Linked DNA regions of Homo sapiens. The protein of the gene in region 1 interacts with the protein of each later gene in a pairwise test. Each region holds a gene or a part of one and is shown in the gene's direction. Other genes may lie near its edges.

What was found.
Region 2: the proteins of DCX (region 1) and MID2 interact in binary tests that used the Homo sapiens proteins (3 or more experiments, as listed by UniProt).
Region 3: the proteins of DCX (region 1) and RINT1 interact in binary tests that used the Homo sapiens proteins (3 or more experiments, as listed by UniProt).
Region 4: the proteins of DCX (region 1) and SPAG5 interact in binary tests that used the Homo sapiens proteins (3 or more experiments, as listed by UniProt).
Region 5: the proteins of DCX (region 1) and USP9X interact in a two-hybrid assay, tested with the Homo sapiens proteins (one study listed by BioGRID).
Region 6: the proteins of DCX (region 1) and SPP1 interact in a two-hybrid assay, tested with the Homo sapiens proteins (one study listed by BioGRID).

What each region holds. Positions count from the first base shown.
Region 1 is NC_000023.11:111,398,693-111,402,192, reverse strand, and holds part of DCX (neuronal migration protein doublecortin), read left to right. Parts: intron 1-862; coding exon 863-1,203; intron 1,204-3,500. UniProt on the Homo sapiens protein: Microtubule-associated protein required for initial steps of neuronal dispersion and cortex lamination during cerebral cortex development. May act by competing with the putative neuronal protein kinase DCLK1 in binding to a target protein.
Region 2 is NC_000023.11:107,919,866-107,923,365, forward strand, and holds part of MID2 (probable E3 ubiquitin-protein ligase MID2), read left to right. Parts: intron 1-3,500. UniProt on the Homo sapiens protein: E3 ubiquitin ligase that plays a role in microtubule stabilization. Mediates the 'Lys-48'-linked polyubiquitination of LRRK2 to drive its localization to microtubules and its proteasomal degradation in neurons.
Region 3 is NC_000007.14:105,542,201-105,545,700, forward strand, and holds part of RINT1 (RAD50-interacting protein 1), read left to right. Parts: intron 1-207; coding exon 208-449; intron 450-3,500. UniProt on the Homo sapiens protein: Involved in regulation of membrane traffic between the Golgi and the endoplasmic reticulum (ER); the function is proposed to depend on its association in the NRZ complex which is believed to play a role in SNARE assembly at the ER.
Region 4 is NC_000017.11:28,579,550-28,582,025, reverse strand, and holds part of SPAG5 (sperm-associated antigen 5), read left to right. Parts: intron 1-1,905; coding exon 1,906-2,017; intron 2,018-2,188; coding exon 2,189-2,275; intron 2,276-2,476. UniProt on the Homo sapiens protein: Essential component of the mitotic spindle required for normal chromosome segregation and progression into anaphase. Required for chromosome alignment, normal timing of sister chromatid segregation, and maintenance of spindle pole architecture.
Region 5 is NC_000023.11:41,228,445-41,231,944, forward strand, and holds part of USP9X (ubiquitin carboxyl-terminal hydrolase 9X), read left to right. Parts: intron 1-808; coding exon 809-965; intron 966-1,122; coding exon 1,123-1,335; coding exon of another isoform or gene 1,336-1,383; intron 1,384-2,056; coding exon 2,057-2,152; intron 2,153-3,500.
Region 6 is NC_000004.12:87,978,714-87,981,312, forward strand, and holds part of SPP1 (osteopontin isoform OPN-a precursor), read left to right. Parts: intron 1-1,332; coding exon 1,333-1,413; intron 1,414-1,679; coding exon 1,680-1,721; intron 1,722-2,599. UniProt on the Homo sapiens protein: Major non-collagenous bone protein that binds tightly to hydroxyapatite. Appears to form an integral part of the mineralized matrix. Probably important to cell-matrix interaction.

The sequences.
Region 1 (3,500 bases):
TTCTCACTTCTTTACCTCATTACTTGTGGCAGCCAAGGGTGAGCACTGGTGAAGATGACCCTGAATACACAGATCTTATGTGCATCCTTTGAGAGGATGGAAAGATGAAGGGTGAGTGGTAGAAACATGAGAGTATTTTTCAAGCAAAAGCTAAGGTGTTTATATGTACTGGTTGTTATTTAGACAGTTTCTCTACCTAGTGTAGCATAAGGAGTAGAGGACACACTTATACACACATATAAACATTCAACATATGCACACACATTTCACATTTCAATATTCCATACTTGGCCATATACTCTGTGCAAAGGATGACCTGGTTTCTTATCAAGTATGTATGTATGCCTGATATACAAGGTTACTTGGTTCATTTTAACTTGGCATAAAAATGTTTTAACTTTGAAAGTTTTCCTTGGTTCATAATATCACAAAGGGATGGGACTTTGAGTCCAAAAATAGGACAGGGATTTTAAGAAATAGAAATGTTAAAAATTCTCCAGTAATGCCCCTGAAAGCTAAACATCCTAGAAACTAACATAAATGTTTAAATTCCAGAAAAAACCATATCAAGCTTGGAACTCCACTTGTTATATTAAATTTAGATATGCTCTTTGTCCTTAGAACCCTTAGCTTTACAGAGTTCTTCAACTAGGTGTGTCATTATATTGAAGGATGTTTTGAGAATTACTCTTGAATTTGGATGAGCCAAGTTTTTAGCCCAATTAGGAATTGCACCTAAGGTTGGTTAGTATCACCATTTATTGAAAAGTTCTACTCCAGTGTCAGTGTGTATTAGTTTGGTTAGAATAATCCATATATCTGCTATTAAACTAATCACCTAATCACTTATTTCTTGCCTTAGGGGAAAGCTATGTCTGTTCCTCAGACAACTTCTTTAAAAAGGTGGAGTACACCAAGAATGTCAATCCCAACTGGTCTGTCAACGTAAAAACATCTGCCAATATGAAAGCCCCCCAGTCCTTGGCTAGCAGCAACAGTGCACAGGCCAGGGAGAACAAGGACTTTGTGCGCCCCAAGCTGGTTACCATCATCCGCAGTGGGGTGAAGCCTCGGAAGGCTGTGCGTGTGCTTCTGAACAAGAAGACAGCCCACTCTTTTGAGCAAGTCCTCACTGATATCACAGAAGCCATCAAACTGGAGACCGGGGTTGTCAAAAAACTCTACACTCTGGATGGAAAACAGGTAGGTACTTTTTCAAAGTACTTTTCCCGTTTTTTCTAAATTCTTAGATGATCATGTTATACCTAAAATATCATTTCTTGTTGACGGACTCTTCCTCCACATCTCATCATCACAACCTGATATTATAGGTTTCATTTGGAGAAAAGGTATTTTTAGCAGGCAAAGCAATGAATCAGGAATCTGAGGCTTTGAAATTCAATCTGCTTCTGATTTACCATGCAGAAAGGTCACTTAGCCTCAGCTTCCTTATCTGCTATGAAAGATGTGTTAGAACCTAGGTTCTATGAATTCTTATGAATATGAATTTAGCTATTATATGATGCAACCTTCATTGTTCAATACATGTGACTGAAAATGATATTTGCCCATTCATTACTTTTTAGATACCCTCACATTGATGCTCAGCATCTATTTTGATAAAAGGAAGTTGAAGTGACCTTCATATGCTCTGAAAGAAGTCAGATACGGGGAAAGCACTGAAGCCTCTGGCTCGTTGTCTTTGCCTCACACTAAACCATATTTATTCTCTTTCTCTTTTCCATATGACATAGCTGTCTTAATTTGGTTCCACTGATGGTTTGTGTGAGAAAGGGACTATTTCAGGATCCTAAAATTAGCCCAAGAAAGATGCTGCCATCTGTTCCCCCTCCAAATCAGGTTCTTCATGTCATTGGTTATACTACTAAAGTGCCACCTATATTAATATCTGGGAAAGAATGCAGCCAGGCGTCTCCATCAGACAGATGCACCATTCTCTTAAGCATAGGGAGCTGTAAATATACAACAAAAATGTTCCAAGGGAATTGGAACAGTGGCTGGTTCTGTTGGCTCTAAAGAGAATTCTGGTCTCCCATCAGAAAAGACAAGTGTGGATTAGTATCAGTCCATATATTCTACCTCTTAAAATGCCTTTGGTGTTTAAACAACTATATAGAAAAGGTATTCCTAAAAGGCGGATTCACTATATATCAAAGTTACTGATGAGTGTTCAAATGCAGACCTGTGCCTCCTCCTATAATTTCTGATAGTAATGTGTGCTCCAAGATTTTAAGTTTCAGGGAAAACTCACCCAGGTACTGTGTACTTTGCAATTTTGAGAAATATTTGGCTTTGTTTCCCATCATTTTGCGATCTGAGAGCTACCTGGACACATTGGTTATACCTGACTTCTGTTTGTTGTACTGAAGCAATGGGTTTGTCTGTGATGTTGGGAAAATCTCCAATTCCCAAGCATTTCTCTAAGAGTGTCTATCTTCTAAGCACCATGTATGTAATAAACAGGAGCTGTCTAAGTATAGGCCTGATTGCCAAAGCCTCATCTCAGAGAAATAGGACATAGAAAGTTTAGAATCATTGGATCACAGAGTTGAGAATGACTTTAGAAGCCATGACATTTAATCTTCCACCTAAGGCATGGATATCCTCTACAATCACTCTATAAGACTATAAGACAGCCTATTTCACTGTTCAACAGCTGTGATTTTTAGAGTTTCTTTATATTAGGCATAAATCTGATTCCCTGTGCCTTCAGCCTTCTGAAGTAATATAGGAATATGCAAATCAAAAACATAAGACTGGGATTAAGAAGATTTGGACTTTAGTCTTGATATTGTCACTTAACCACTTAACTGTCCTGAACCTCACACTCCTTCTCTGTACAAAAGGACTGATCACACCTGCCCTGAGCATGCTCACAGGACTCTTATGAGGATTAAATCAAATAATGGATATGAAAGCACTCTGTAAATTGACACATGGATGTATATATATATATATGCATATAATTCATCATTAAATGAGATTTATGGCAATTTTCATATATTAATAAATGTTAGCTCTCTTTCTCCTACTTTATTTATTTATTTATTTACTTTTGGAGTCAGAGTCTCACTCTGTCACCCAGGCTGGAGTGCAGTGGTGTGAATTTGGCTCACTGCAACCTCTGCCTCCTGAGTTCAAGCAATTCTCCTGCCTCAGCCTCCCAAGTAGCTGGGACTACAGACGCACGCTGCAATACCCGGCTAATTTTTTTGTATTTTAGTAGAAACGGGTTTTCACTGTGTTGCCCGGGATGGTCTTGAACTCCTGAGCTAGGGCAATCCGCCCACCTTGGCCTTCCAAAGTGCTAGGATTATAGGCATGAGCCACCATGCCTAGCCTCTTCCCCCTACTTTATCTCTATCATTCTTATTATAAATTTCCAACATTTGTGAATATATACCATGCCTTGGCATTCTGCTTTTGTTCCAAATAATATATAAAGGGACACCTCCATCTCCTAGGGAAGCAAGCTCCAG
Region 2 (3,500 bases), 3.5 Mb from region 1:
ATGTCTAAAACAAAAATACAAAGCCTTGAATTTATCCCTAGTACATTTTATCTGGTTAGTTCTGCCACTTCATTTCAGCATGCTAAAATCCTTTGGGATACAGATTCTACCTTCAAATATACTTGCTTACCCTCACAGCCTGCCTTCTATTTCTTCCTCTAGTTATTGATAGAAAATTTTGTTAGAACAAGGACAAGGGCAGAGGCCTGAAGCAAAATTTTGGATGGCAATGAGAAACTATTTTACTAGGAATAAGTATTTTTGAAGATTCAGGATCCCAATCCTACCTGCCGGTCTGGCCTGCCACAGTTGACTGAACCTCCGTTCTGAGAGCTACTTTCCTTTGACGTTTTTTCACATTTTCTTTATCCAGAAATTTCATGCTTGTTGGTGAGGATTATTCCCCCTTCACCTTTTCTTTCAACTTTATTTCCTGATTTTTAACTTTCTTCCCACCTCTTCTAAGATTTGAAATGATCACAACCAATGATGTTTCAGATTATGCTGTGAGGTGAATGAGAATTCCAACAGATATTTGAGTGTGTTTGTCTTCTGATTACTTTATTATCTTTCCTCCGTTTGAATTTTGTGTTTTGCATTACAAAAGCATTAGCCGTAAACTCTGCCTAGCCAGGCGGACCATAACATACTACCAGAAAGACATAACTTCTATTTCCCTTCCTTTTCATTCTCATGCAAATACTCTCTACCACACATTTACACTCAGGTTCAGGGATTTCCATATTGTAATTTTTCCCTTTTGAACAAGAGGTATACTTCCACTGACATAATTCAATCATAAGTCCCATCTTACTAAATCTCAGTAATACCTAGAGGATCATATATTTACCTTTTTAAATTTAGAAATGATTTCAAAATCACAGAAAACTTTCCAAGACTAGCACAAAGAACACCCATATATTCTTTACCCAAATTCACCTACTGTTAATATTTGTCCCATTTCCTTTAGCATTTGCTAACATTCCCTGTTCTTTTGGAACCATTTTAGAGCAAATTGCATACATCATGGTCTTTCACCTCTGAATTCTTCAGTGTATATTTCCTAAGAATAAGGAAATTCTCTTACATAACCACAGTATAGTTACCAACTTGAAGAAATTTAACGTTGATGCAATACTTTTATCTAACCACCATTTATATTTCAATTTTTGACATTTGACCAAATAATATTCTTTATGACATATAAAGAACCCAATATTGTCCTTTATAGTTTAGGGTCAGGTATTACATTTAATTGTCGTATCTCTTTTGCCATATCTCTTTTAATCTGGAACATTTCTTCAGCCTTTCTTTGTCTTGAACAACATTGACATTTTTTAAAAAGTGTTCTTTTATGTCTTTATTATACTTCATTATACTGTTCCTTATTTTGATTTTTTCTGAAGTTTTCTCATGATTATATTTAGCAGTACAGTTCTTTCTTAGGGTATAATATCTGGAGACACATGATGTCCACTTGCCCTTCACTGATGATGCTAATTTTGATCACCTAGTCAAGATGTCGTCTGATTTATTCACTGTAGTTGCTACTTTTTCTTTTGCCACTAATAAGGAATCTGTGTGGTATGTTTTAAAACCATAAAAATACCCTGCTGCTTCATCAAACCATCTCATCCCTACCCCCACCCTTGTTTTATTATCAGTTGATGATACTTGCCTGAATCAATCATTAATATGATGATTGCAAAATGATGATTTTTCCAGTTGAGTATTCCCTCCCACATTTTCAAGTTGGCACTTGGCATTCTACTATAAGCAAGAGTTCCACTCCCCATTTCCTCCCATTTGTTTATATATCAGTATGGGCTGATGAATTATCTTTTTTCAATTGTTAATAATTATTTACAGCCCTTACTTGTGTTGGTGTTCAAATTGTCAAGATTTAGCCATTGGGAGCCTTTCAAGGTGATTTCTGGGTCCTTATAATATTCCCCCATCATTTTCTTGAGCACTTCCTTACTTTCTGGCATAACAAAATGTTCTAGGCTCATTTTGACCTTATTCTGTCCCAGCCTTGAAATCAGTCATTATTTTCCAAGAAACCCTGGTTTCTTTTAGTGGGACAATATTAGAGACCAAGACCTGAGTGCTAGATATGCTAGATATAAACACAAATATCCATACATGTAAGCATATGCACACATATATAATAACACATGCATACATACTTTATATATGTGCATATTTATGTGCACATACACAAACATATATATATTTTAGAAATCATGAGTTTACACCAATACCTTAAATTCCAGTCCATCCCCACAGGTTCCTTCCTGCCTTTCTCCATTCTGTATTTGTATGTTCCTTCTTCCACAGTATGAACCCTGGCTCCCAACATCAACACATGTACTCATTTGCTCAATCCCATAATACATCTAAAATAGTTTCTGAATTGCTCTGTCCACGCCACAACAAAAACAAACTGGCTAACAATACTTCAGGATTTGTTTGAGGTTTTCCTCCCACCCCCACTACATTGATGTAATTATGCTGTTCGTCTGAAATGCAGTTGGGTTTGTTTCAGTTTGCCTTCAGCTTTAGTCCCCAATTTTCCCATCTGTATTCATTTAATTTTATTTTTTTGAATTTGTAAAACAATGTGTTTCCCAAAGAGGATGCTATACAAAAAGGTACATTCAGAGAAATGTCATTTCCTCCCACATCCTTTTAATCCTGTTCCTCCACCCCCTACCCCTTGTGGATAACCAACTTCATGAATTTTTTATTTATCTTTCCTGTTTTTATTGTTGTTGCTTTGTAAATCCAAGCAAATATATGGATGTTTTCTTATTTTTCTTTCTCTCAAAAAAGTAGTGTACTGCATATATACTACATATACATATATACTTTTGGAATTTGCTTTTTTCAATTGACAATATTTCCTTGAAATCACTCTATATCAGTTCATAGTGATCTTTTCCTCATTTTTTTCACAGCTGCATAGTACTTCATTGTGAAGTTTGTCTTTGTATTGTTGGGTGTGTATCTGGAGATTATATGTTTTCCTCTTTGTATTAAAATCTTATGTGCAGCTTGTGATTCATACTGTGTATTGGTAACATAGGCAAGGCCTCAAACATTGCTCCTACCCTTTTAATCCATATTGTCTTTTCATTAGAATCACTGGGCACCTCCACCAATTCTTCCTCCTCTTTCTCCTGCATATCTGTTTGCCCTCCATCGTTTCTTTTACTAGTTTTAACTTAGGCTCTTCAACTTCCTCTCAGATTAATTATAAGCCCTTTGATCAGATCTCTTGCAAAACATTCATGACTTATTATTTTCAATTTTCAACCTCACTAAATTTTGTACTAGAGTTGCATAGAAATGACTGAATTCACTGCTTATATTCCTCGCCTTTCCCTTTCTACCCTCTAGTAGAACTGTGGCTAAAAAGTGGTAAACTAACTGAAAAGCAGATAACAGTAGAAAGAAGTCTAAATAATCTGCAGACTAGAATGTTGGTTTTTCTTTTA
Region 3 (3,500 bases), on another chromosome or scaffold:
GGTGCATATGTGTAGTCCCAACTACTGGGGAGGTTGAGGTGGGAGGATTGGTTGAGCCCAGGAAGTCCAGGCTGCAGTGAGCTATGATGGTACCACTGCACTCCAGCCTGGGCAACAGCGTGAGATCCCCTCTCAAAAAAAAAATTATGAAAATTTTATCTGATTGCTGCTGTTCTTTCTTTCTTTCTTTTTTAAAATTATGGTCAGGTACTTACAATTTCATCAGAAATTCCTAAAAGAATTCGAAGTGCCTTAAAAAATGCAGAAGAATCAAAGCAATTTCTTAATCAGTTTCTGGAGCAGGAAACTCATCTCTTCAGCGCCATTAACAGCCATTTGCTGACTGCGCAACCTTGGATGGACGATCTTGGAACCATGATTAGCCAGATTGAAGAGATCGAACGTCATCTTGCTTACCTTAAATGGATTTCACAAATTGAAGAACTAAGGTAAAATGGGCCTCTTTGTTCTCACAATTACTATTTTCCTTTGAGGCTTCTGTCTTAGAGAGTACATGTGTGCCATTAAATAATTGAGTTAATTAAAGATTATAATAATATAATTTTACCAGTTGTTGTGAAAATAGCATTATGATAATGATTCTTTTCCTTTATTGTGAGTGAACATAAGCTTTTCAGGGAGCTTAATTAGCATTTGAAAGAAGGTAATGTAAGTACGTTAAACTTTTAAGTTTTTTTTTTTTGAGATGGAGTCTCGCTCTGTCGCCCAGCTGGAGTGCAGTGGTGCCATCTCGGCTCACTGCAAGCTACACCTCCCGGGTTCATGCCATTCTCCTGCCTCAGCCTCCCGAGTAGCTGGGACTACAGGCGCCCGCCACCATGCCTGGCTAATTTTTTTTTTTGGTATTTTTAGTAGAGACGGGGTTTCACCATGTTAGCCAGGATGGTCTCGATCTCTTGACCTCACTGTCCGCCAGCCTCGGCCGCTGGAAGTGCTGGGATTACAGGCATGAGCTACCGCGTCCGGCCAAACTTTTAAGTCTTACAGTTGGATTATGAACACATGATAAAAACTATTCTTTGTAATGCCAAATTAATAAAACACAAAGTTTGGTAATAGTTATTCTTATTTAATTTTTAGAACTGGTCAGTTAATGAAATGGATTGCTTTTGTATAATTTGAATATTTTTCAGTGGGAATCATAAGAGCTACACAGTATTCTTGGATGAATAACAAGAGTTCTGCTACCTCTGGGTAGGAAAAACAAAAAAGGAAGTAAGGCTTGACCTTAGTTCTTTTTGAGTTGAATACCTATCACTGGTAGTTAATTGTATCTAGCTTTGCCTTTCAGACAACCCAAAGTAACATTTCCACCTAGATTAGTAGATGATAAGGTCCCCACTATCCTTGCATTGTTTTAACTAGTACTTGCTGCAGAGCTGTCAGCAACCATTAATTTTGCCTGGAAAACCTGAGGGAGAAAAGTCTTCTGGGAGTCTTAATGTCCTGTTTCAAATGTATCATAGTTAATAAACCTGATATTACTTTTGTTATGGATATGTTTTATGTATTTCTTTTTCTTGCATATATTTCCCAAAATTTTAAAGAATTTTACATATCAATATAATATAGAAATCTTTGTTTTTAGGCCAGGTGCAGTGGCTCACACCTGTAATCCCAGCACTTTGGGAGGCCGAGGCGGGCAGATCACGAGGTCAGGAGTTTGAGACCAGCCTGACCAACATGGTGAAACCCCGTCTCTACTAAAAATACAAAAAAAAAAAAGAAATTAGCCAGGCATGGTGGCGCGTGCCTGTAATCCCAGCTACTTGGGAGGCTGAGGCAGGGGAATTGCTTGGACTCGGGAGGCAGAGGTTGCAGTGAGCTGAGGTTGTGCCATTGCACTGCAGCCTAGGCAGCAAGAGCGAAACTCCGTCTCAAAAAAAAAACAAAAAAAACAAAAAAACTTTGTTTTGCATGTATGAGGAGTTTTACATATAAAGTGGTTTAGAACATCTCATTCTTGTTTAGATAAATTATTTGCAGTGAAGGAATTTTAAACCTTGCTTTATTTTACTGCATTTCTCCTTGTCCCTCAGAAAGGAAATATCAGTAAGGGGCAATGTTAATAACTTTATTAAGTAAAATACGTTATTTGAAAACCTCACTCTTGTAGTAGCCAAAGTAATAGATTAACTAAATTAGGTCCATGGTTATTGATAAACTTTTCTTTTTTCTTCTTTTTTTTAACATTTATTTTATTTATTTTAATTTTCTTTTTATTTTTTTTTGAGTTGGAATCTTCCTCTGTTGCCCAGGCTGGAGTGCAGTGGCACAATCTCAGCTCACTGCAACCTCCACCTCCCGGGTTCAAGCGATTCTCCTGCCTTGGCCTCCCGAGTAGCTAGGACTACAGGTGTATGCCACCACGCCCAGCTAATTTTTGTATTTTTAGTAGAGATAGGGTTTCACTATGTTGGCTAGGCTGGTCTTGAACTCCTGACCTCAAGTCATCTGCCTGCCTTGGCCTCCCAAAGTGCTGGGATTACAGGTGTGAGCCACTGCACCTGGCCTTGATAAACTCTTCAGATATCTGAATTGTTTATAAGGGAAATATGCCGAGGGATTTATATTAGAAATAGGGATCAAATTCATAAGCAGGTAGAGCACAGTTATTTTTCTGTCTTTAATAATGTGTTATTTCCCTGAGGTCTTTTATGATAATCTCTCCATTTCCAGCTTTCCTTTAGAGCTTCTGGGATTTTCTTCATCTCTAAATTTTTTTATAATGGCCTATTTTTATTCTGATGTACATTGTCTTTTTTTCAAGTAGTTTCTTCTTGCTAGAATTAGCATCCTTACATTAGCTCTGTTTCTTGGATACTATAGTATAGCACTATCACTCTGAGTGAACCTTGTTTCTCTAGCTTTTCCTATGTTGTAAATGTCATTCATACTTTAGTGTTGTGAGGAAATCTATTTCATTCCTTCCTTAAAAGCAGTACTCCTGCCGGGCATGGTGGCTCATGCCGTAGTCCTAGCACTTTGAGAGGCTGAGGTGGGCAGATCGCTTGAGCTCTGAATTCTGTGACCAGTCTGGGCAACATGGCAAAACCCCATCTCTGTTTAAAAAAAAAAAAATCAGCCAGGCTTGGTGGTGAGCACCCATAGTCCCAGCTACTCGGGAGGCTGAGGTAGGAGGATCGCTTGAGCCCCGAGAGGTTAAGATTGCAATGAGCCGTGATTGTACCACTGCACTGCAGCCTAGGTGACAGAGTGAGACTCTTTTAAAAAAAAAAAAAAGGCAGTACTCATATTCTGTTTGTACATTTGAAATTCTTCTGTAATATTTGTATATATATATATATATTTTTTTTTTTTTGAGATGGAGTCTTACTCTGTTGCTGAGGCTGGAGTGCAGCGGCACCCTGTCAGCTCACTGCAACCTCTGTCTTCTGGGTTCAAGCAATTCTCCTGCCTCAGCCTCCTGAGTAGCTGGGATTACAGGTGCCCATGACCACGCCTGGCTAGTTTTTATA
Region 4 (2,476 bases), on another chromosome or scaffold:
AATTTGATGTAAGAGTGACCAATTTGATGTGAGAGTAAGTTAGAAGAGTGAATGATGATCCTTAGATTGCTAGGAAAGAGGGCCCAGCGGGTCAGCTGTGTTAGTGTGTGGAGACTAGGGCTAGTGACACCTCCGGGTCAGCTCTGTGCCCAGGAAGCACTTCAACCTGTGTGGCAGGAGGGATAGCAATAGGAAGCACTTCAATTCCCCACAACTCAGACACCCAGACGGGAGGGCAGAGGACCAAGGCTGAAAGGAGTAGAGAGCCTGAGAGAGAGATGAGACTGAGGGGAGCTAGTGGTGACTCAGGCTAACCAGTCAGCGGGAGAGACCTAGACCGGGGGGCAGAGAAGGCGGGAGAACTGGAGAGAGGACCTAGCCTAGGAGGAGAGGGAGCAGGCTGAGAAGGAAATGCTCTGGGTAGGAGAGACAGACTCCAAGGAAAAATCCAACAAGTAGAGGAGGATTTGGGATTGGAAAAGCTGAGGTCCAGCTGGGAGAGCTGAAGAGGGATAGAACAGAAGAGGTTGAGCCATGGGGTTTCAAGTACGCGGAAAGGAGCAAAGATGTTAGGAAAGGGTCGAAAGGGCACATCCCGGAGTCCCAGGTAGCAGGACGAGGATGGCAGGGGAAGAGCCAAGGAAATGAAGCGGAGATGTTGAGTGGCTCCCGCCTTGCCTGGCCTTACCTGTGCGCAGCCAGTTAGCAGCCGCAGCCACAAGCACAGCTACTTCAGGACTGAGGCCAGCAAGCTTTTCCTATAAATGGCCATATAATAAGTATTTTTGGCTTTTTGGGCCATATGGTCTCTGTCTCAACTACTCAATTCTGCCTTTGTAGTTCAAGAGCAGCCATAGATGATACAGCCATTAATGGGTCTGGCTGTGTTCCAATAAAACTTTATTTACAAAAATAGTTGGCAGGCTAGATTTGACCTGTAGGCCACAATTTGCTAGCCTTCCCTCTCCCTGCTCTAGAATAGTAAATACAGGAGTAGGAACAGACTTTTGATAGGGTGTTCCCTATCAGGGCACAGGGAAAATGGTGAACTCAGCTTCATACATACTAAGTTGACAGATTGACTGTGGAACCTTCTGGTAGATTCTTCACAGGCAGTTAGCCTTTGAGTCTGCAGACTGGGAAAAAGACTGGGAAAAAGTTGAGAGAGGGATGGAAGAGTCATTCATGTGGAAGGGAAGTTTGAAGTAGATGTTTTTGTGATGCTCCCAAGGCAAGGCCACCCTGGGAATGAATTAGAGTAAATTTAGGGCCAAGGACTTAACCCAGAGGATCCAGCAGTTAAGGAAGGACCTGTGAATAGAGAAGAAATAACCAGAAAGGTGTGGGGCCTGCCTTTAAAGGAGAGAGACTCATGTCCTGGAAGCTAAGAAAAGGAAGTTTCTAAAAGAACAATGTGGTCATCAATATCAAATAGGTCAGGTAAAACAAGAGCTGAAATATATGCATTGCATTTGAAAGTAAGGCTGCCATTGGTGAACCAAATGACAAGAATTTAGGTGGAATGACAGGGGAGAAGCCTGAGTGTAGTGGGCTGGGGAGTCAATAGATGGTGAGAGTTATAAACAAGAAGTATAGGCTCTTTTTTTCTTTCTTTTTTCTTTCTTTCCTTTCTTTCTAGAAAAGGCAGTAGCTAAAAGGGGATTTAAGGTAAGAAGAAGGGTTTTGTTTTGTTTTGTTTAGGTTTGTTTTTAAAATACTGCTGTTTTTGTTGGAGAGGCTTAAGAATATAAACATGTTCAGAGAAAGGCACTAATGGAGAAGTTGAAGATAGAGAATTGAGATAATAGGTGGAACAGCATTTTGGAGGAGATGGCTGGGAGTTACCTGGAAGCCCAGGAGTTCACTAGACCTGAACAGCAGCTATTTTTTCTTCTTTGCCCTTAGACTGAACAAGAGACCCTTCTGCTGAGTACAGCCTGTCCTCCCACCCAGGAACACCCTCTGCCTAATGACAGGACCTTCCTGGGAAGCATCTTGACAGCAGTGGCAGATGAAGGTTAAAGGCCCTGGGATTTGGGGGTGGGAAAGTTGTGACGCTGCTCCTGATATCTTCTGCTGTTGAAGATGTCCACCAGCGGGCTTGTCTATCTTACCCTGGCTTCCATTATGGTAGACCCCTGCCTGGATCATCAGAGGGGCCCTCTCCCATTATTGGTTTTTCTCTTAGAGCCAGAATCAACTCCTGTGCCCTTGCTTGGAAGTGACAAGAGTGCTTTCACCCGAGTAGCATCAATGGTTTCCCTTCAGCCCGCAGGTTAGGAGGGGCTCCAGGGATCCTGCCTCATTTCTAGAAAATCTGGTGGTGATGAGTAAAGACGAAAGCAGTGAGAAGTGCTTTGCTCTAAAAACCTCAATTCTACTTGGGCTCATTTTATTTCTGCCTTCTGGGATCTGTAATGTTCCAGACATTCAAATCCTGTGGGTGGGGAACACGGATAAGAGTTGTGGAAATGAT
Region 5 (3,500 bases), about 70 Mb from region 1:
CCAAATTGTACTATTGCCTGTCAAAATGCTTTGCCTGCCATGTATTCTCATTATTAGAATTCAAATACTGTACCTCCAAATTATGTCACTGAATCCTAACTTGCCTTCAGAGATGCAGTTTTATAAAAGGTATTGATGTGTAGCAAATTACCCTCAACTACAGCAGTCATAAACTTAGTTATAACTTTTTTAAAGTTTGCATTACTCTCGAGTGTCCTGAATTCACTTCAGGTAATGTGTTTAAATTACATATATGGCAGAATTATTTTGGACTGGTAATAAGTTAGTAAGAGCACAGACTCTGGAGTCACACTGCTCCGCAGCTATATGACCTCGGCAAGCTGTGTAACTCTGTGCCAATTTTCTCACCTGTTAAAAGTTTTAATAATAAGGCCAGGCGCAGTGGCTCATGCCTGTAATCCCAGCACTTTGGGAGGCCGAGGCAGGCGGATCACGAGGTCAGGAGATTGAGACCATCCTGGCTAACACGGTGAAACCCCGTCTCTACTAAAAATACAAAAAATTAGCTGGGCGTGGTGGCACGTGCCTGTAGTTGGGCTGAGGCAGGAGAGAGGCGTGAACCTGGGAGGCAGGACTTGAAGTAAGCCGAGATGGCGCCACTGCACTCCAGCCCAGGCCGTCTCAAAAAAAATAAATAAATAAAAAATAAAGGTTTAATAATAGTACCTATTGTCTAATGTTAGATTAAATGACTAAAAGACATTATTGAGTGGCACATAGTAGGCACTCAGTATATATTAGCTATTAGATTTTAGATGTTTTTATTTTATATCTGGTTCTCTTTCAGAATTCATAATGCACTGAAAGGAATTCCAGATGACCGAGATGGGCTGTTTGACACAATCCAGCGCTCTAAGAATCACTATCAAAAAAGAGCATACCAGTGTATAAAATGTATGGTAGCTCTATTTAGTAACTGTCCTGTTGCTTACCAAATCCTGCAGGTGAGGATTTTTTTCTTATAATTTTGTAGAAATCTTAATCAGAATTAAGGATTCTGTTTTAAAAGAAGAGAATCATGAGAACTTGGGGTTGTCATTTTAAGTTAACTTTGAAGTATTCCAAATCCTCTTATCTATATGGTTTTATTTTCTTTTGCAGGGCAATGGAGATCTTAAAAGAAAGTGGACCTGGGCAGTGGAATGGCTTGGAGATGAACTTGAAAGAAGACCATATACTGGCAATCCTCAGTACACTTACAACAATTGGTCTCCCCCAGTGCAAAGCAATGAAACGTCCAATGGTTATTTCTTGGAGAGATCACATAGTGCTAGGATGACACTTGCAAAAGCTTGTGAACTCTGTCCAGAGGAGGTAAAAAAAGCCACCAGTGTGCAGCAGATAGAAATGGAAGAGAGCAAAGTAATTCTTTATTTTATAGGCCAGTGTTTATGTATTAATGATATTATTAAAAGATTATGTTGAAGTTTTGGGTTTTGAAAAATGTTTATTCGGCTGGGCATGGTGGCTCACGCCTGTAATCCCAACACTTTGGGAGGCCGAGGCAGGCGGATCACCTGAGGTCAGGAGTTCAAGACCAGCCTGGCCAACAAGGTGAAATCCCATCTCCACTAAAAATAGAAAAATTAGTCGGGCGTGGTGGCAGGCGCCTGTAATCTCAGCTACTTGGGAGGCTGAGGCTGGAGAATGACTTGAACCCAGGAGGCACAGATTGCAGTGAGCGGAGATCGTGCCAGTGGGCTCCAGCTTGGGTGACAAGAGTGAAACTCCATCTCAAAAAAAGAAAAGAAAAGAATGTTTATTCTATGTCATTTTAAGCTAATGAAGGGAGCTTTCTTTTGGAGAAATTTCTGTGAAATTGCCTGAAATGTAGTAGTTCTGAGAGAATGCAAATCAGGTTTTTTGTTTTGTTTTTTTTTTTTTTGTTTTTTCCCCAAGTTCTTTATCTGCAGTAAAAGAAAAGTTGCTAATGGGTCAGTTTTGTAGATTTTTAAAATTTATTTCAAATAGAAAAAGTTAAAAGTAAACTTGAGTTTGCCTACGTAATTTTTTATCTTGAAATATTCAAAATTAGGAGCCAGATGACCAAGATGCTCCAGATGAACATGAGTCGCCTCCACCTGAAGATGCCCCATTGTACCCCCATTCACCTGGATCTCAGTATCAACAGGTAAACAGGAGTCAGTTTATGCTTTTATCCCCTAGAACTGGGTTTTATGCTTAATTTTAGAGGATGGCTCAATTGTTTGTTGTGACTACAAAGTAAGAAGTAGGATTATCTAGACTAGCTTTGGGAGCATGATCCAGAAGAGGGATGGTTTGGAGTGGGGGTCATGGTGTAACATGTTTGAACTTAACCACTGTAGGGTTTTCCTTGTCAAGAAGGTGTCCTTCTTGTGCTAGTAGTTAATAAAACTGTATGAGAATTTATATCAACATAAAATGATCATTGTTTAGTGCAAAGGATTGTGGTGACATTTCCGGTGAGGTAAAATCTTCACCTGGATTCCAAAAACATTATTAAGATATGGCAATGAAGTAAGAAGTCCTTGGTTACTTAGCCACAGGTTTCAGTGATGGTAAAAATCACTGGAAAAAAAAGGATTTGGGTAGATTTCCATAGGTGATTAAAGTAAATAAACTAGTAAATAGCAAAAGAAATGAGATGAAGAAACATTCTAAATGATAACTTTTTCTTTCTGAAACCAAAATGTGACTAAATCAGCTCTTGTGAGGCAGTGGTACTCAAACTTGCACAGGCGTGAGTCTCCCTGGAAGGGTTGCTCCAGCAGAGAGCTAGATGCTACCCTAAAGTGTCTTATTTCATAGGTCTTCAAGGGGCTGGAAAATGTACATTTCTAGCAAGTTCCCAAGTGATGCTGCTGGTGGTCCAGGAACCATACTTGGAGAAACATTTCAGGCATTCTTTCTTACATTTCACTGTGTACATAGAAGCAAACTGAATAGTTAGGAAGTACACATTCAGCGTACTTATTTTCATCTATAGAAAGTAAAGCCTGGCCAGGCGCGGTAGCTCATGCCTGTAATCCCAACACTTTGGAAGGCTGAGGCAGGTGGATCACCTGAGGTCAGGAGTTTGAGACCAGCCTGACCAACATGGAGAAGCCCTGTCTCTACTAAAAATACAAAATTAGCCGGGTATGGTGGTGGCGCATGCCTGTAATCCCAGCTACTCAGGAGGCTGAGGCAAGAGAATCTCTTGAACCCAGGAGGCAGAGGTGGTGGTGAGTCGAGATAGCACCATTGCACTCCAGCCTGGGCAACAAGAGCGAAACTCCCATCTCAAAAAAAAAAAAAAAAAAGTTAAGCCTAAAATCTTGGCTTGGCTGATGGAGCATGTACAGAAAAATGAGAGCACTGTAGGGTTCAGACATTTTAAAAGGTTAAGGAACCAAATCCACAAGGAAGGTTAACTTCCTTTGACCCTGAGAAAGCTCTTATGTTAATCATGCCTGGTTACTTTATCATCTTGAACATTGTTCTGTTTTTAATCAGCA
Region 6 (2,599 bases), on another chromosome or scaffold:
TCTTTCAGCAAAACCTTTCGGAGAAGCCCAATACTAAGCTCCTCTGGTTAGAGCCAGCCATGAGAGAAACTCCAAGTACTTCTGACTGGTTCTCTCTCTACTCATCCACCCCTTAGGTGGCTGCAGAAGGAACTCTGTGCAACCCCCAGAGTTCTCATTCTCAGTGACAGGGAAATGTAATGATTGGCCCTGGATGATTCAGCAGATCAGATGATACTTACTCAGAGCAATTTCCACTCCTTTGCAGTAGCATATTATCAGTATTTTCCAGATAAATAACTTGGCTAAAGAAAAATCCATTTCATTTACATCTTTGGCACCTTACAGCAATAGAACTTTTGTGCAATGATTTTAATATTATATTTCTACATTGGCTGATAAGATACATATGGCTATTGAGCACTCAAAATGTGGGCTAGTGCAACTGAGGAACTGAATTTTTATCTTCTTTTTTTTTTTTTTTTTTTTTGAGATGGAGTCTTGCTCTGTCACCCAGGCTGGAGTGCAGTGGCGCAATCTTGGCTCACTGCAAGCTCTGCCTCCTGGGTTCACGCCATTCTCTTGCCTCAGCCTCCCCAGTAGCTGGGGGTACAGGTGCCTGCCACCACGCCCGGCTATTTTTTTTTATTTTTATTTTTTTTAGTAGAAACGGGGTTTCACTGTGTTAGCCAGGATGTTCTCGATCTCCTGACCTCGTGATCCGCCTGCCTCGGCCTCCCAAAGTGCTGGGATTACAGGGGTGAGCCACCGTGCCTAGCCATTTCATTTTAATTAACTTAAATTTAAATAGCTCCATGTGGTTAGAGGATACTGAATTAGCACAGTCTTAGAGAGTTCCTTCTTGTTCCATGGACTGGACACAATGAAGATTAACAGTAATTAAGGTCACTTCTGGTTTAGATGTGCTTTATCTGAGAGGAAAATTCAGCCAGCAAACATACAAAAAGAAAGCACAGTGTGAAGTTCGGTGTTAAGAGCTAGTTTGCCTGCGTTTGAACCCTGCCTGGCTCTGCCATTTCCTACCACTTAACTGCACTGTGGCTGAGTTTTCTGATCTGTAAGGTGGGAATAATAATGATACCTATCTCATAGGGGAATGAAAGGATCAAATGAGTTCATATTTGTAAAGCAATTTGAAAGAGTGCCTAGCCCACAGTAAGTGCTACATAAGAGTTTGTTAAATGAATCTGCAAAAAAAAAAAAATTACAAAAAGGTACCTAAGGGTCCGGGTGACTATATGCTTCCATCAAGACTAGTGAAGAATGGTTGTTTTTTCCATTCATCCCTACATTTCTTTTTTTAATAATGATAAACATGCAACTTTTTTGTAGCTTTACAACAAATACCCAGATGCTGTGGCCACATGGCTAAACCCTGACCCATCTCAGAAGCAGAATCTCCTAGCCCCACAGGTATTTTTAAACTTCTCATAATTAAACTACAGTGATGAAAGATAGCCACACTCAGGCCATTTGGGCTGCTCAGATGAATCCTGCCTGCCTGCTGGCAAACATGTGCTTAGGACATTGACTGATCTGCCATGTTGGCTTCTCTCTGTGTTAAGCCATCCACAGATGAGGCTGAAAAATAAAAACTGCTTTGGATTAAAAAGGTTAACTTTTGAATAAAAAAGCTAGGCATGTGTGATGCGCACTAACACGTGCCATTCCTTCTTCAGAATGCTGTGTCCTCTGAAGAAACCAATGACTTTAAACAAGAGGTAAGTTCTCATTTTCAATCAGAGGCCCATCATGCCTTGAAGAGATGAAAGAAGGCATTGCCTGGATTCTCTTCTGATGAAATTTCATTAGCAAGTTTTCCAGCTAATTGGCAGTCTAAAACTTGCTCATAAATAAAACATGTATTTACTAAATATCAGAAATACTAGGTTTCCTCGGATAAGTTTAGCATTACAGAAGATGTTTATTAATGCCTGTTATTTGAAACATTAATCTGCTTGCAATTTATTTAAGGTATTTTGTAGATATCTAATATCTAATAAGCATCTAATTAATGCATATCAAAGCTAAGATTTTGCCTTTAGGAAAGTTTTCTTTCCTAATAAAATAGTTTATTTGACAACTATTCTTTTTATTAGGATCATTCATATATTTGCTAAGCAAAGAGTAAATTTATTTTCCTTAAGATTCAATTTGAATATACTAAGAATATTAAAGCAAGTTAGATAAATTACCCAATATATTTGTCAATTTGAAATTTGATAGACATTAGTTGTTTAATTCAATGGGCAGTTTTGAGCTGCAGTTTATACACACATGCATAACAGAGTCACCTTTCAATTATCCATGTTAATAGGAAAGTGGTTATAGATTTTAGTACACACATTAAAATATGGATACTCTTCTCTTTTGATAAATCTCATTTCAAATAAAAAAACCAGTCTCATAATTATGTATCTGTATCTATTACATCATTGAATTTAGTAAATAATGTTTAATATGTATAAGGAAAAACAATGTTATTGACATGAAGATTATACTCACATATTTGGCTTGAAAATATCTATAAAAATAATTTCTGTTGCAAAGTAAGAAATGTTCTTCAGAATGTTATTAATCCCTGTGTTAAAAGAGAAAT